Linked DNA regions of Homo sapiens: region 2 is linked to region 1. A link means that fine-mapping ties the variant in region 1 to the expression of a gene that starts in the linked region. Tissue or cell type: spleen. Region 1 holds a variant in brackets; the other region holds the start of a gene. All regions are shown on one strand. Distances are between the middles of the regions.

What was found. PIP is the estimated chance that this variant, and not a neighbour inherited with it, causes the effect.
Region 2: SLC5A1 starts here. The variant in region 1 is fine-mapped to the expression of SLC5A1 in spleen (GTEx, PIP above 0.99).

The regions. Positions count from the first base shown.
Region 1 is chr22:32,080,722-32,085,721 of GRCh38, forward strand. SLC5A1 (solute carrier family 5 member 1) reads left to right here. Exons shown (of 15, transcript NM_000343.4): 6 at 1,145-1,250; 7 at 2,353-2,433; 8 at 3,718-3,938; 9 at 4,179-4,314. Among named protein-coding and RNA genes, the nearest start is that of SLC5A1, 40 kb to the left of the region's middle. The variant A/AG (reference allele first, on the strand shown) is at 2,264.
Region 2 is chr22:32,038,871-32,045,426 of GRCh38, forward strand. SLC5A1 (solute carrier family 5 member 1) reads left to right here and starts at 4,391. Exons shown (of 15, transcript NM_000343.4): 1 at 4,391-4,546. The coding sequence starts at 4,412. It also overlaps the pseudogene RPS17P16.

The DNA of each region.
Region 1 (5,000 bases):
GCAGTGGCTCACGCCTGTAATCCCAGCACTTTGGGAGTCCAAGGCAGGCAGATCACGAGGTCAGGAGTTCGAGACCAGCCTGACCAACATGGTGAAATCCTGTCTCTACTAAAAATACAAAAATTAGCTGGGTGTGGTGGTGCACACATGTAATCCCAGCTACTCAGGAGGCTGAGGCAGGAGAATCGCTTGAACCCAGGAGGCAGAGGTTGCAGTGAGTTGAGATCGCACCACTGCACTCTAGCCCGGGCGACAGAGTGAGACTCTGTCAAAAAATAAATAAATAAAAAAGACTCACCATGATCATCCCTTAATACTACCCTCCCTGGTATTGTTTTGGAGATGACATGAACATGCATTTGGGGTGACCCTGGTGCTCTCTGCTGGTTTATATGAGCAACTGCACCATCCAGCCAGGTAGAAGGTTCATTAGGAGAAGGCTGAAAGAGACAGGAAGGAGGAGAAAGGGTGAAGATGGAAGAACTGCATCAAGAATTCAGGAGTGAGGAGGGAGCAATTCTCCCAGAAATTACATGAAATAATCTAAATAAAACCAGCAAGTACCAAGCCTGCTATGTAAGAGGTGCTTGGTGATGTTCTGGTTGTGTCTGAGTCAAGATGGACTGCATCCGGGTTGGGGAGTTAAAATTACAAACTTGCTAAGTTTCTCCCCGCTCCTGGGTGGGGGTGGGGTTTCTCACTTATGGACTCTCCAGCACTCAGACTTGCTTTTGGGGACGAGCTCTGATAAACCTGTGTACACTGAGGTGCAAAAGATGGACAATAGCTCAGAGCAACAGTCTACAGGTGACTTGCAAGGAACCTCTAAGTGTTAATAGCTGTTCCTTGGCAAAAAGAGTTCAATAGTTGAGTGAGTTTGTGAGATGTCATGTACCGTGTTCCCTCCCTGGGGATGACTGTACATGGCATATATTAAAGGCTCAGAAAAGTTGTGTGGCAAAGAAACTGCCTTAATTCTGTTTAGCATTTTATAGACCTTTTTGACCATGGAATTCTTTTTCTCATGGAATACGTATTATCATCTTGAATAAAGCTTGCTTGGAAAATCAGGAGTAGAGAGACTACAGGCCCTGTAGGCAGCTGACCACTCTCCCTCCTAACTCCGCCTCTCCTCTCCTTCCAGGCAGACATCTTCTCGGGGGCCATATTCATCAATCTGGCCTTAGGCCTGAATCTGTATTTAGCCATCTTTCTCTTATTGGCAATCACTGCCCTTTACACAATTACAGGTGAGTCCATTCAAATAAACCAGCACCTCAAACCCAGCTCGGGATCAGGCACTAGTGAAGGATAAAGGGAAGTAGGAGAGGTGGTTTCTCTTCTTGAGGAGAGATACACTCAGGTAAGAGTTTGGGAGTGAGGTATTTGCTTAGTACCAACTCATAGACCCTCCAAGTTATACAAGTGGTTTCAGAAAGCTGTGGTGTTGGCTGGGATAGTCAGGGCAGCTTCTCACAGGAGTGCATGCAGAGCTGGGCCCTGTGGGTTGTGGAGATGACTTAGCTAAGGTGGGAGAATCAGAGCAGTGGCAGGTGCAGAAATAAGTGAGCACAGGGGAGTGGAGGCAGGGTGGGCACGCAGATGCTCTTGGCTGGAGGAGGGTGGCCACTGAAGGATCGTGGGGGTTTGTGGGGACCATATAGCTTGATAGTTCAGATGAGGTCACAGCATACTGTGTGTTTTGAACACAGTATACTGGGGTTTGGAAAGCCAGGCAGAGGCCTTGGATTTGATGTGTCAGGGACTGGGAGCCCCTGTAAGGAGGGAGAAAGGCAGTGACTCACACACAGAGGTTTCAGAAGAGGACTCAAGTGGCCACCCAAGAAGCTGGTGCATAAATAGCAATTGGGGCTCCTTTGCAGAGGGGTCACTCTGCCTCCTTGGTGGGGGTGGGAGGGATCAGCTTTAGAACTTGCTGCTTGACTGCAGCCCCACAGCTTTGGGGACTAAGAAAAAGGTAGACATATGTCCCACCATCTCCACAGCCAGCTCTTTGCTCCTCCCTGCCTTGTGTGTGGAAGACGCTTCTTCTTACCACAGAGGAGTCATCTCCTTTGAGCCATCTTCTGGCTCAAAAGGGTCACACCAGACTCTTTCCCCTCAAGTAGGGAGAAACATTCGCCACTTCTATGACAGGTGGAGCTGTGGGAACATGCTGAATAGCAAAATACTGTAACAGGACAAGGGAGGGAAGGAAGGAGAGGCAGGCAAACCACTGTGGGGATGTTCTCAGAAGGCCAGC[A/AG]GAAGTAGAGGGTGGAGAGTGGGGAAGGAAGCAAGTAGACAGGTCACCCTCCACACGAGGTCAGATGTGTTGTCTTCTTGCCTGCTTAGGGGGCCTGGCGGCGGTGATTTACACGGACACCTTGCAGACGGTGATCATGCTGGTGGGGTCTTTAATCCTGACTGGGTTTGGTAAGTGGGGCCAGGGCAGGCTGAGGAGGTGGGAGCAGAGGTAGAGGGCCTCAGGAAGAGGAAGGCAAGTCCAGCCTCTCTACCTGCTTGCCAGACTAGGCAGTGAGCTGAGGCATGCTCTGCCCTTCCAAACGGAGGGTCCAGCCCAGATGGGCTGTCATTGTGGGTATGCAGGGTCAGCTTCCTTATCCCTGGAAGACTGAAGCTGGGGCTGGTCCTGGATTTTCTGCTGCCCTCTCTCACCAGTCTGGGCTAGTGGTTGTGCTGTGAGCCTGTGATAACATGGTGTTCTGTTTGCAGAGAAACTGGACAAAAAAGGATAAGGCTAAATATCCATCAAGCTAAATCTAGTCAAATGTTGCGTCTTCCATCTTAGGCTATATCTTATCTACATTTTGATGTCAAATATCCTTTCTTTTATGAATTGTTGATAGTGGGTGATAATGTTCCTTTTAATGCCCCTATTTGGCAAAATTAAAAACTTGGCTCCTCAGGGTTGGCCCTCCAATTAATTTTTTTTTTTTTTGCAATTTTACTTGTCTATGAAATCTTAAAGATGAGACTGGAGAACCTAGGTAAGGGTACTTATTATGGGAGGATAGAAAGTACATTTTATTTCTAGGTGCTCAAGGCCCACTGTGTATCCTGCAAAAACTTGTATTTGCTCTCCACTCTTCTGTTTTCTAAGGACTTTCATTTGGTTCTCCCCAGCAGGCCTTGGGTGTTAGCTAGGCAGGCAGTGGAATGACTTATTCAAGGACACACAATTGAGAGGTGGCAGGTTCTGGATTCCTCACCCATTCCCTGTCCATCCCACCACATGCTGGGTCCAGGAGTGGTAGGTGTGGGTCTGAGGTCCCAAAGGCCACTGTGTGTGTCTAGGTCTGTGTGTCTCTAGGCCTGAGTCCAAGGCTCCAAAGGCCATGGCTGACAGCAGAGGGTGAGGGAAAAAACAGAGTCTTTGTATGTGGTCCCAAACCAAGGTCTTTCTTTGATTAATAAAAGTCCCTTCCCTTTTACAAAGAGGTTTACAGTTGGAGTACTTTTACAAGTGATTGCTTTGGTCCCCATAATAGCCCCCAAGGGGGCTGGGCAGGGCTACTAATCTCATTCTATGGATGACAAAGCTGAGGCCCAGAATGGGAAGGTGATTTGCCCAAGGCCACTCAGTGAGGGCTCTGTCTGTGGGTTGGGTCCTCTCAGTTTCTCAGGCATCTATGGAAAGAAGCTGCTATGACGAGTTGAAGGTTTCAGAATGTTCATTTCTGTACCGATGTTTTCCAGCTTTTCACGAAGTGGGAGGCTATGACGCCTTCATGGAAAAGTACATGAAAGCCATTCCAACCATAGTGTCTGATGGCAACACCACCTTTCAGGAAAAATGCTACACTCCAAGGGCCGACTCCTTCCACATCTTCCGAGATCCCCTCACGGGAGACCTCCCATGGCCTGGGTTCATCTTTGGGATGTCCATCCTTACCTTGTGGTACTGGTGCACAGATCAGGTACCCAAGCTGGATGTGCGGGATGGACAGAGTCTTCTCCAGGGCCCTACAGGAACTCCTGTCTGTCTGTGGTTTGCAGGGTTGGGACAGGGAGGGGAGAGCTCAGGTGGTTTGTAAGTTGCCACGCCCCAGTGATACAGCAGTGCCAGGCCAATGACCCAAGATGGCGAAGCTAGGAAGTACAAAGGTGTCACAGGGTCTCTGGTCTGCACACCTCCCTTACTGGGCTTTTTCTGGCAGGTCATTGTGCAGCGCTGCCTCTCAGCCAAGAATATGTCTCACGTGAAGGGTGGCTGCATCCTGTGTGGGTATCTAAAGCTGATGCCCATGTTCATCATGGTGATGCCAGGAATGATCAGCCGCATTCTGTACACAGGTAATAACTTCTGCTGGACCCACAAACCACTCTCCCTTTTTCTGTCTCCAAGTCACTTCTAAAGCTCTATAGCTTCCCGCTTCCTCCTCTTTTTTTTTGAGACCAGGTCTCACTCTGTCACCCAGGCTGGAGTGCAGTGGTGTGATCATTGCTCACTGCAGTCTCCAACTCTAACTCCTGGGCCCTAGTGACCTTCCTGCTTCAGCCTCCTGAGCAGCTGGGACTACAGGTATGTACCACCATGCCTGCCTAATTTTTAATTTTTTTTTTTGTAGCGATGGGATTTTGCTATGTTGCTCAGGCTGGTCTTGAACTCCTGGCCTCAAGTGATCCTCCTGCCTTGGCCTTCCAAAGTGCTGGGATTATAGGCATAAGCCACCACGCCTGGCCCTCTTCTTTATTTGTTATGGTCATATCCAAGCATTATTGCTCCTGTGCTAGACAGTGAGCAACTTGAGGGAACTTTTGGAGTTGTCTTCCCTGGTTTCTTATGTCGACAATTGTTTCCTCCTTTTTTTTTTTTTTTTTTTTCAAATCTTCTAAAGTTATGACATGCCTCCAGGTCACTTCTCCCTAATAATATTTGCTCAATTGTTGCTTAATCTCTTGCTGTCATCCTTCCACCCTGAATGTTTCTTTGATTTCTTTCCTCCGTTGCCTAGAAATTGTCTTTCTTCCTTAGTCAG
Region 2 (6,556 bases), 41 kb before region 1:
CCTTCCTTCTTTCCTTCCTTCCCTCCTTTTCTTTTTCTTTCTTTCTCTTTCTCTTTCTTTCTTCTTTCTTTCCTTTCTTTCTTTCTCTCTCTCTCTTTCTCTCTCTCTCTTTCTTTCTTTCTTTTTCTTTCTCAGAGATGGGGTTTCACCATGTTGCCCAGGCTAGTCTTAAACTCCTGGGCTCAAACAAGCCTCCCACCTTGGCCTCCCAAACTGTTGGGATTGCAGGCATGAGCCACTGCTCCTGGCTCCATTTATTTTCTTTTATACTGTATTTTTACTGTAACTTTTCTGGGTTTACATACACAAATCATTACCATTGTGTTACAGTTGCCTACAGTATTCACTACAGTAACCTGCTGTACAGGTTTGTAGCCCAGGAGCAACAGGCTATACCATACAGCCTAGGTGTGTAGGCTATCCCATCTAGTTTGTGTAAAGACACTCTGTGATGTTCCCACAAGGGTGAAACTTCCTATGACGCATTTCTCAGAACATATCCTGTTGTTAAGTGACACGTGACTGTATGCTAATCGATAGCCTGCTTCTCTGGGCTTTCCACAACTGAACTCCCAATGAGAAAAAGGGAAAGAGCTCTTTTACCAAGGACCCGCCAACATGTGCCGCGTTTGCACCAAAACCGTGAAGAAGGCGGCCCGGGTCATCATAGAAAAGTACTACACACGCCTGGGCAACGACTTCCACACGAACAAGCGCGTGTGCAAGGAGATCGCCATTATCCCCAGCAAGAAGCTCCGCAACAAGATAGCAGGCTATGTCACGCATCTGATGAAATGGATTCAGAGAGGCCCAGTAAGAGGTATCTCCATCAAGCTGCAGGAGGAGGAGAGAGAAAGGAGAGACAATTATGTTCCTGAGGTCTCAGCCTTGGATCAGGAGATAATTGAAGTAGATCCTGACACTAAGGAAATGCTGAAGCTTTTGGACTTCGGCAGTCTGTCCAACCTGCAGGTCACTCAGCCTACAGTTGGGATGAACTTCAAAATGCCTCGGGGACCTGTTTGAATTTTTTCTGCAGTGCTGTATTATTTTCAATAAATCTGGCACAACAGCAAAAAAAAAAAAAAAAAAAAAGGGAAAGAAGAAAAAATTATAGCAGCTCTCTTCATCCCTCATCTTTGCTGGTGTCTCATTGTCAATGAGGCCCCTTCACACCCATCATTTGAGAGAGTCATTGCTGTCAATGCTGTATTACAGATGTTCAAAGAGAGGGTTGCAAATGCCAAGTGAGCTGTCAATGGTCTACTGCTTGTTGGTAGCTGAGCTGAGAATCAAACTAGCCAAGTAGGTTCTCTCTTCAGCCCCTTACTTCCCAAAACTCACAGACTCTGCACTTAGGCTGTTGATTTCTTTGTGTGGCAAGAGTTCAGGAGCTGGCCATTCCACTGTGGGGTCCTTTGCCAAGAAGCACAGTTTAGCCAGTGAGAGGTGGACATTGTACCATTGGGTCTCCTGGGGAGAAGCTCCCAGGCTGGTAGGAGAGGTGGAACCCCCAAGGGTCCTGGACAGATGAGTGTGGAAGGAGGAAGAGGAGACAGGACAGTTCCCACATAGTGATGAGTCCTTACCCTGCATAATGCTGGGTTCTCCCTGCCATCTGTAGACACTAGTGACCTCAGAGTCATTTGAATATTTGTTCTTTTTCTGACAGTCAGGTATGGCTGTGGCTCTGTGGGCATCTATTTTTAAATGTGGAATCCTTGTCTGACCACTGATTGTAAACCTATGTATACTTGGATAGGGAGGGGGCTGCTTCCTGCTCTCAGCTCTGTCTTTCCTTATCAGCCTCATCTTTCCTGCGGCCTGAGTGTCTGGCTGGCTTTTTTCTTTCTCGGGTGTTCTGCTAACAAGGGCCCCTTTAGTGACCAGATCCTGGTTTTGATTGGCACCAATGACGGCAAGAGAGAGTCCAACAGGATCCTACCAGTGAGCAGTGACCCAGCAGCTCAGGCCAGCTGCATGGGAGCAGGTGGGCATCACACTGTGTTCTCCTAGAAGCATCCATTCAGGGGAAATTGGGTTTGAAGTGTCCCTTTAGAAGAGACCAATGAGGAAGAGAGATGGCAAAAGGGCCTCAGGCAGCCTGGGGAATGACTGTGGTAGGGAGTTTCTTACAGGTGACATGCTTTTTATATATGTTTATTTGTAGCCCCAGCTAGTCCCTCCCTAAATATTGTAACCCCTTCCTTACTCCTCATGCTTGTCATCTCCTGGAATGTCCCTCACTCCCAGCTTACTTGGCCTATTCCTCCTTTTCTTTCAGGTCCCTGCTCAAACCAGAGCTTTCACAGAACTTACTCTAACCTCACCTTATCCCCAGGTTGAATTCCTTGGTAGGCATTTGGGGTATTAGTATTTCTCCTTCAAAGCATGTGTCACAATGGTAATTTCACAGGTAGTTGTCTCATCTTTGATGCTGATCTATCTCTGTCATTGGTCAGGAAGCTCTGTGAGGGCAAGAGCTCTGTGTCTTTTCATAGCTGTATTCCAGGGTCGGTACATATGATCTGGCACATAGAAGCTGCTCTTTTGTTGTAAGAATAAATGAATGAATGAATGGATGCATTTTCTGACCTCTACCTGGGCACCATCCTTTCCTTTCTTTTCCCATTTATGTTTGGCTCTCCTAAAAGATCAAAGAATGGCTCTGTCCCTCCTTTGAAGTCCTTTAGTACTTCCAGTTCTCTCTCCTGCTCGCTTCACTTTCTATGCCTTGTACTTTTGGAACTTGGCATGGCCTGGCTGCCTGCACCTGCACCTGGGTTCAGGGCTGGACTTTTCCTGTGGGTGGGTTCACTTCCAGACTAGAACAGAAGCTTCCTAAGGGCAGGGACTCTTCCTGGGATACATTCAGGTGAAAAAACTTGGCTGAATGCAGGAATGAATGAACACAGGCAAAAGGCGAGTTGCTCCAAGCTGCAGCTGACAGCTGAGCTCTAAGTCTTGGGAGGCATCCACAGCAGACAGCCCCTGCTTTCAGGTTCCTCGTAAGAATTCCTGCTTCCTTTGGGCAGGCATTATACTGGCCCCAGGACATAGCCTTATATAGTTTGCAGTCCTGGGGGATGTGTGGGGGAAATGGGGAAGACCTGTGGGGATGCTGTCCAAATAATGATTCTTTGTCTGCAGCTTCAGTGGGAAGAACAGTTGCTGATACGGAAGGAGGGGAGGCAGACCTCTGAAGCATTGAGTGCAAAGGAACAGGATGCTCACATTTAGGCAGTGGGTGGTTGTCTAGCAGTGGGCAGGGAGGGCCTGAGGCAGACCAGAGTCCTGGCAGGGTTTCTGTGGTCCTCTGCCTCCCTGCACCTCCCCATCAGAGCAAGGCCCCCCTCTTTGGGAACAGTCACTTTTGGCTGCTCTGTGGCCTCTAGAGCCAGCCCCTGAGAATACCCCACAGCCCTCCCTCTGAACCCTGGCATGGGCTGCAGGGCCAGCTCTGCTGCTGGTTTCCTGTATGACCTTGGGCAAGTCATGCCTCCTCTCTTGGTCATCTCTGTTCTGAGCCCTGGCTTGCTGTTTAGACATGTGTTTCCAGATGGGTGAGCTGAGTCCCCAGGAAGGTCAGGGTTTGATGAACTCCTTGGAAAGGGTTCTCTAGTATCTTCCCTTCTGCTGCCTCTGGAGGGCCCTGCATCAATACTGGGAGAGGGACAGGGCAAGGAAATAGCTCCCGGTGAGATCCCTTCCCCCAGTCTCAGTTTCTTCCTCTTTACAGTGGGGGTAACAGTGGACCTGGGGGCTGCAGGCTGTGGAGGGGGAGTCAGGAATGTGGGTGGGTGGGTGGCTGTCCTTGTGGCCAAGAGATTAGGATTGTGCTGGTTTTTTTCCAGTGACACCCAGCAACTCTCTGTCCTCTCAAGAATGTTCTCCAGGGAGAACAAGACTTGACTGATTCTTCAGAAGAGTGCTGCACCCATTTTACAAGCGGACAAGCCAAGTCCTTAGAAGGCATGGGACTAGTCCAAGGATGGGTGGCAGGTGATCTGAAGCCTCTAGGCTCCTAGCCCCAGGTGGCCTGTTCCCTCAATGGAGCCACTCCAGCTCTGGCAAGGGCAGGTGTGGTGGCGCTGCTGGTGCCTGCTGTGGGAGTACAGTGGGCCTTTGTGCCAGGCGGGCACCACCCCCTGGCTGGCCCCTCCCCATTCGCAGGACAGCTCTTACCTGCCGGGCCGCCGCCCCAGCCAACAGCTCAGCCGGGTGCTCCTTCCTGGGCTCCACGCCCGGAGCTGCTTCCTGACGGTGCAGCCGCAAGGCATCGCAGGGGCCCCGCGCTACTGCCCTGCTCCCTCAAAGTCCCAGGTCCCCTCCCCTGGTGCTGATCATTAACCAGGAGGCCGTATAAGGAGCTAGCGGCCCTGGCGAGAGGGAAGGACGCAACGCTGCCACCATGGACAGTAGCACCTGGAGCCCCAAGACCACCGCGGTCACCCGGCCTGTTGAGACCCACGAGCTCATTCGCAATGCAGCCGATATCTCCATCATCGTTATCTACTTCGTGGTAGTGATGGCCGTCGGACTGTGGGTATGCAGCGGGTTCTGGGATGCGGGTGGGGAGGGTGCGCACAGAGGAGGAGCAATGGCCTCGCTGAGCTGCAAGGGGCAGTAGGCTTAAGTGTCGGTGGAGGGGAGAGGAAATGACTTGGAAGCACTTTAGAAGCACTCAGAGGCACAGCATGAAGGGAGGAGGGCAAGCAAGGATGAGCAGAAGTGAGAAGGGTGCCCAGGGCAGCCTGCCAGGAAGGACCAAGGAGGATACCTGAGCCTGTGAGCAGAGAAGGAAGGTGGGGGTTTGAAGAGACCGCTGGAAAGTGTAAGGGGCAGGAAAGCGGCTGCTTAGAGCTACAGGGAGGGCTCTGGGGCTTGGGAGATGAGCCTCTAGCAGGTGACTACTGTCCTACCTTTTAGTCATCCAGTTTCAGATGGGAAAGAAATGGTGTGGAGTGGGAAAGCCACAGCCTCTGCCAGCCCCAGAGATGGGGATGCTGAGGTGGCAGACAGAGGGATGCTGACCCATGCCCCACTCCTGGGAGAGGCTAACCCAGAGGCCTTGTGCATGAGGATCCCAGGGGCTGGATCAAGTTAGAGATGAGAAAGATGGGTGGAAAAGGAGGAGGAGGAAGACCTGGGGGTGACCTGGCACTGGGGAGAGGGAAATGTGTGTGTCTCCTTTTGGGACTCTGGGGACACAGCAAACCAGAGAAACTTGTTCTCAGCCACCTGGAACATGGGCATTTCACTTATGACAGACTGTGGCAGGCCCAACAACTAGAGGAGGAGATGTTTTAAAAGTGTGCAGGACCGACTGTGGTGGTTCACTCCTGTAATCCTAGCACTTTGAGAGGCCAAGGTGGGAGGATTGCTTGAGTCCAGGAGTTCGAGATCAGCCTGGGCAACATAGTGAGACTCTGTCTCTACAAAAATAAAAAAAATTACAAAAAATATATAAAATGTTTGCAGATGTTCCAGCCATTCTCGTGATTGTTATGGAGGTGGAGGTGATAAGCCCAGGGAGGCTGCTGTAGCAGCTGGTGATTGTGTTGAACTCTTTTGACTTAGAGGAGAGGAAGGTAGGCATGAACACTTCTGTGGACACAGAGCTTTTTCAGGGACAAAAGGAAGTGTTTTTTTTTTTTTTTCCAAAGGAATTGTAGAAACTAGATGTGGCAGAATGCCTCCCAAGTGTCACATGGGGTCAGTATGGCTGACTTTTCCTCAATACTCTCAGCTTCCCAGACATAGTGGAAACTGACCAACTAGGAGCCAGGATACTCAAGTTCACTACTGGCTTTCACATGGTTCAAATCATGGAACATTGGGTAACTTCCCTCAGCCTCCAGTTTACTCAACTTTAACATAGGTACACTCTTATCTATTCTAATGACTCCCCCATGGTTGTGGTGAGGATACGCAGAGGTGAATCTGAAAGCTGTTTATGGACTCTAGGATTAAAAAAAACTACTATTGTCATTTACCTTCCATGGTATGATCTGGGCTCTGAACAATGTTTATCCTTTTAAGTAAAATGGGCAGCAGTGGTCAGGTGGGTAGTATATTTTTACAAAAGCCACAAGACAGGGAAGGCCAGAATGCTAATCCCCGTTTTACAGAAGAGGAAATTGAAGCCTCATGTGGTTGTGATTTGTCTAAGGTTACAATAGATGAAATTGTTCCTGGAACTCAGATCTCTTGACTCCTGATTTTTTATGGTACCAGGCACTCTGCCACTGTGACTGACTTCCTCCTTCCACCCCACCCCAGCTTATAAGTGCTGGAGCCAAGGTGTGAGCCCGTCATCTGCTGGCTATACAGTACTGCCTGTTTCCCAGACAATCTCTGATAATATCGGTTCTCTTAACCAATCTCATTTTAGCCCTGCCAGTCTAGTAGGTGTTTATACTTTTTAAATGGTGTTTACATGTTTCAAGTATCTGTGAATCAGTATCACTTGTCCTGCTAAATGCTACTTAATAGCCTGTTTAGTATTTGTCTATGTTTAATCTTCCCCCATTAGACAATGCCTCTGGACCCTGGT